Linked DNA regions of Homo sapiens: region 1 is linked to region 2. The links come from fine-mapping of genetic effects on gene expression. A gene starts in region 2. The other region holds a variant in brackets. All regions are shown on one strand. Distances are between the middles of the regions.

The links.
Region 1: its variant is fine-mapped to the expression of INTS6-AS1 in whole blood (INTERVAL, PIP above 0.99). The same link has a PIP of 0.9 or more in lymphoblastoid cells.

The regions. Positions count from the first base shown.
Region 1 is chr13:51,369,444-51,372,348 of GRCh38, forward strand. All of the region lies in intron 15 of INTS6 (integrator complex subunit 6), which reads right to left. Among named protein-coding and RNA genes, the nearest start is that of MIR5693, 22 kb to the left of the region's middle. RefSeq lists an enhancer at 1,238-1,737. The variant T/C (reference allele first, on the strand shown) is at 1,482.
Region 2 is chr13:51,452,217-51,455,121 of GRCh38, forward strand. It overlaps INTS6-AS1 (INTS6 antisense RNA 1), which reads left to right and starts at 1,129. Exons shown (of 2, transcript NR_103812.1): 1 at 1,129-1,202; 2 at 1,787-2,500. It overlaps INTS6 (integrator complex subunit 6), which reads right to left and starts at 820. Exons shown (of 18, transcript NM_012141.3): 1 at 199-820. The coding sequence starts at 309. RefSeq lists silencers at 1-245, 486-745, 976-1,175, 1,266-1,585 and an enhancer at 806-855.

The DNA of each region.
Region 1 (2,905 bases), 83 kb before region 2:
ATAGTTTTTAAGCATTGCCAAAGATACGGTAGATTTCAATGTGACACATACACAGTATTTACAAAATATTTACAATTTTTACCCTTGGAGGAAAAAATAAAGCCAATTTCAAGTAGTTTTTAGTTTTCTGGTTTATTCTATAGCAATTTTATTGAAACAAGTAGGTTCTTGATACTTCAATGAAATATCTATGATCAAAATTATCACGGTCATCTATCTCTACCTTAGAGAGCCCTAACTCACACATATGCCTTATACATCTGGTATCATTTAGAGGCAAAAGTAAACACTGGGTAGTTTTTACTTTCCACTTATATTTCTGCCTTTAACTGTTCCAAATTCTGCAGGGAACATACCACCAAACAGGTAATGTTTTACAGTATACCTTCTAACTAGAGAATCTAGTCATCATTTATTTACCAGTGCAGAGCAACCTGGTGCCCACTTCAGCTTATTAGACTACTAAAACTGAAAGCTCGCAAGCCTTCCTCTTAACACCAGATTATTAGACTTGCCCCACAGAAAGCAGCTGAATTTTAAGTTCTCTGATTGCTCACCAACCTCCAGGATCCCAGCTGAATTCATCTCTACTGTCCTCATTTCCTGTCCAAACTATAAACTTAGTTTACCCATATTCCCCTATACACTCATCACAAATCCCCCAAATTCCTGACTCTCTCCTAAATTCGATTCCATGATTTGCAAACTCCTCTTTACTGAATATTCTCTACAACAACTTATGCTTTAACTGAAACCCAGCTCTCCTGTATGGAGACTGCTCTCCTTTCCAGACCAAAAGTAGAAATTGCTTTCTCTTGCACAATCTCCATAGGCATAAAAGGACATGGAGTCACTGATTCCTTCACTTCCTAGTGCTATTGCAAAATTACTCCCTTGCACTCTTGTGAGACTCAACCATGCCATTCACGCTGTCTCTCCTTATCACTATCTTAGGCCAATCTCCAGGGTACAAGCCTGTAAGCCACTGTTGTCTCTGGCACCCAGTTCATAGCCTTCCTTCTGTTGTGCTGAGCCCCTATCAACTCCAGTGGGGATGGCACCAAGTTCAAGAAGCCAAAGAAGAGACCCAGAGCCAGCAAACAAGACAAGGCGTTTTGTTGGGGGCTACATAAAGGGGAGCAAGCCCAGTGGTGGCAAGCTAGGCAGGAGAAGCACCTTACATACAGTCCAATGGTGGTGGGCTGGACAGGATAACTGCACGGCCCAGTGGCAGCAGGCTGGGCAGAAAAATGGCAACTGCTTGCAAAAAGTATACAGTTTATATCGTATTTTCACTTAGCACTCTTCCCCCTAACAACCTCCACCTGGCAACCTTCATTTAACCCAAAACAAAGGGCCTCAATCCCCTGTCTGGCCTGCATTCACTTCACAATGGGTTAGGGGCACAGATGTTCCTTATAGATAGGGAATGGATCTTTGGGTTAGCCACCCTATTCCCTAGCTCAGAACTCCCAACCGCA[T/C]GCAGGTGTTGTCTGCAAGCAGGGTCATTCTCAAGGTATGCTTCAGTTATTGCTATCAAGCACATCTGCCATGCACATTCCACCCCCAAAGCCCTTCTGACTTCATTCTTGGTTCTTACTACTACTCGAAGTCTGGTGTGTGGACAAGCAGCAGTACCACCAACAGAGAGCTTGCTAGAAATGCTCATCTGCCTCAGACTGAATAAATGAGAATCTGTAGTTTAACTAGACCTCCCAGGTGATTCACATGCATATTCAAGTCTGAGAAGTGCTGTGGTGACTTCAGTGTTTAAGCAGATCACCTGTTAAGAACCTGGCCTCCCCATTCCCCAGCTTCTCTCTAAAGAACTTACACTTACACCTTCGCCTTTCACATCCAGACAAATTCAGAGATGGAGGAGTATCATCTTCACAGTACTCCCGCTACTGCTCCTTAACTCAGCCAGACTTTGACTCTAGCAATTCCTCTACTTTCTTCCTCCTATTAACCATATCCCTTCTAAGTAGCCAATTCTGTATCAGGCTTATATCCCTGTAAGTAAAAGTGATATATCACTTTTACTAATGTCTGAATTTCTCTTATTCTACTGTCTTCCCATAACATCTGCCAAGCAAAATCCCATCTCTTGACTCACTATCTGCTTGCCCCAGACTTGCATTTGGAATCATGAGCGCTGCTGGAGAAATAGGGCCCAGCTCTACAGAGTGGTCACAATCACCATCTCTACTTGGATCCCAGGCACTGTCTAGCAACCTTATCACAATCTTTTCTCTCTCTCTCCCACAGAGATTGTTAAACTCCCTCACTCTCTTCAAACCTCTGACTTTCCCAATATCCCCTTCCGTCTCAGCAGTATACTTCACCTTCTACCTCACAGAGCTCGGAAGAAAAGCAAAGCCATGATTAAGGGACTTCCTTTACCTTCCTCTAACTAAATTGCACACACCCTCGCCCCACTTCCCCCACATTCAGTGTCAATGGAGGGAGCATTCTTTCATCTATGCTCTAGACCATTCCCTCTTGCGTTCTCAGTAATTTTGTGCTGAGTATGCCTTTTCTCATTTTTATTTTCAACCTCTCCCTCTTTACTGGTTCCACCACCAGCACTGAAACATGCTCAAGCATCTCTGATATTAAAAACAAAGAAAAATCACCATTTTCAAAACCCTGTGAACTCTTCCAGATACCATGCTCTTTTCCCATCTTCCTTTTACAACTAAACTTAACTGGTCGTTTATACTCATAGCCATTGTTTCCATTTTCTCACCTCTCACTCCTCCCATAACCCCTTGTTAGGCTCTGCCCCTTTACTCCACAGAAACTGCTCTTGCTAAGATCGCCAAAGACCACAGAATCTTTCCATTTCTCTTGATTGAACAGTTTTTTTTTTTTTTTTAAAGTATTTGGGACAACTACCCACTCA
Region 2 (2,905 bases):
CCGCCCGGGGCCGGAGCCCGGGCCCCGGCCGAACCCGGCTCGCAGCGCCCGCCCGCCCGCGCGGTGGGGGAGGGGGTCCCCGAGCCCGGCAGCTCCCGCAGTCAGGTCCCCGACACCCCCGCCCCGGCCGCCCTCCCCCACCCTGCCGCCCGCGGGCCGCCGGGCCGGGGTCGCCGCCCGGGCTCGGTCAGTCGGTACCTTCATGAAGGTCTCTACCGCGCCTTTGGCCGTGTCCAGGTAGGTGGTGCCCAGATGGCTGCGCTGGTTCATAGAGGCAGACGTGTCTATCAGGAACAGTAAGATGGGCATAGTGCTGGCCGGGGACACCGGGGCCCGAGGTGGTGGAGAAAGAGGAGATGGTAGAGGTGGAGGCGCCGGTGGCGGCGACCGCCGCTACGCGGGGCGGGGGAGCACGGCCCCCGGGAGGAAAACACTGTCTGGGTCTTTCCTCCGGCTGCGGGGAGTTTCTCCCCCGATAGTTGAGAGGAAACTCCCCAGACCCAGTGCTCCCCGTCGTACCCCCGCCTCCGCCTCCTCCTGCCTGCCTGCCCGCTGGGGCGGGCGCCCAGCCGTCTGTCTGTCGGTTCGTCCCCCCCGCCTCGGGGGTCCCGTCCCCGCTCCCGGCCCCTGTGTGTGTCCCAGCGGGAGACGGGCCTGGCTCCCCACCCCACCCCCGGTACAGGAGTGGGGACCTGGGAGCTGGCGAAGAGGGGAGTGGGCTGAGGGAAGATTGGCCCTGGGGCTGTTGGGAGAAGTTTCAGGGACTCCCTCCGCACCCCGGCGGTGTCACCACTTTCTCAGCCCCTCTCGCTACTGAAGCGCTTTTCTCTCTCACACTCCGGTTTTAACTCGGGCAGGGGCTGCGGAGGCTCCGCCCCTGACACGTCCCCGAGCCACGTGATACACCGCCTCGCCGTTCTACTGGTCAGGCCCTATCCTTTCATTAGCATATTTAAACAGCTCAGGGGCGGGGGAAGCTTGTAGGCCGGCTCCGGGGACAGTTATTGAGCACGCGCAGAGGCGGGGCGTCGGGTGCGCGCGAGCGGGCGGGCGGGCCGACCCGGAGGCGGGCTTCGGGAAGGGGCGGGGCCGGACTGCGGAAGGACCGCGAGGTGGGGGCGGGGGCCGCGTCCGCGCGCGCGGGGCGGCCGCGGCGGTGAGCCTGCGCGTCAGGGCCGCCGGCCTCTCCTTGGCTGTTGGAGGTGATAGGGGTCGAGGGGAGGGAAAAAGGGGCTGGCGTCAGCCGCCCCTGTGAGGTGGCCGTAGCGTGGACGAGTAAGAAGGGTTGAGTAAAGTGGACAAACACCTGGTTAGGAGAAGAGGGCAGGCCCGCAGCCGCCCTCCGGAGGAGGACTCGGGGCCTCGCGGGCGCCGGAGGAGGTTCCTGGGCCTCGGAGGGCCGCCCCGGCGCGCCGCCCCGGCGCGAGCGGGCGCGGGCGGGGGAGGGGAAGTGAGAGGTTGTTTATGACCGGGGACTAATCTCCTCCGCGAGTCCCAGCGCTCCCTCTGGGGAGTGCGGTTGAGGGGCTGTCCTCGCACGGAGCCTCGCTCGGCCTCGGGGGAGCCACGAGAGGTGGGAGTTGGACCCGCAGCGGGCCAGGAGCCCTGTCATTGGAGGACCCGCCAAAAAGGAAGCAAACCCTCTTTTTCTTTATCCAACCCCAAATAGCTAGGGCCTAGGGGGAAGACTCACATATCGATAAATGGTTTGTTGCCCGTTTTATTCTCTGGGAAATACAACTGATCTTACCAAAGAAATAACCTGTCTCTTGCCGTGTTTACTTAGAGCCATAGAATACCTGTTTCAGAGCTGAAGGGGACCTGAGCCCATGATAATCCATTACCTCGTGAGAAAGCGGAAAAACTGACTTCAGCTTGCCCAGATGGCGCAGAGAATGGGTTTCCCGTAACCCCGCCTGTGTCTTTCCTTCAGCCTCGTCCCAAATGCCGTGGGAGGGAAGGCACTCTCTGTCAAGCTGCTGTCACCTTACCTGAAGTAAGGAGTCCACGCCTGCATGTCCGAGGAAAACAGTTTTCTCAAACACATTAGTTGAAAAACTGAAGACGCTGCCTAAAATACAAGCTGAGTTAGAGACAGCCCTTGTAAGACTAGGTAGGTATTTACAGGGCCTCTCCCACTAGCTTTGTTTTTCCAGAGTTTGTTCTTTATCCGGAAATTCTTAATTTGCCTACTGATCATTTAAAGAAAGGGTTCTATTAACATTGACACAGAAGAGACACTTTGTGGCACTTTTTAAAAATCTGAGTCTCGTGACTTGGTATAACTTCTGAAACTTACTGTTAATTTATAGCAGAGCTATTTGAGTAATATGCTCTTCTATGAGTATGAACAATAGAAGAAGTGTGATTTTTAAAGTGATTTGGACTACAAAATAAGAGCATGGAATATAGGCTTTACAGCCAGTACTTGCTGAGGATGTACTGTGTATTAGGTGTGGTGCATATAAAAAATAAATAAAATGTGGTCCCTGTCTTCAAAGAGCTTATGTTTTCTAGGAAAATGCTACATATTACTAGCTACTCCAAGGCAGAAAGTTGTTAGACACCAAATCAGAAAAAATAAAAATGTATTACCTTGGGGTGATGCAGGAACATTTTCCAAGGTTTCAGCTTTGCCTTAGTGTTTCTTAAACGGATCATAGATCTGAAGATAAGAATCAGAGTTCTATGGCAAAATACGAGTTATTTTACCAGTTATAAAGATGAAATTTGTCTTTCAACTTGATCATTTGCATAATTTTATACAATTGCTCTTTAGTTCTTTATATTTGTGCTTTTCAAACTGGTCTGTGGACCCCAGCCTACTGAAAACATTCTCTAGGATCATAAGAATTTATTTTAGGAGTCTGTTCATTATTCAGTTTTAAGAAACACTGTCTTAAAG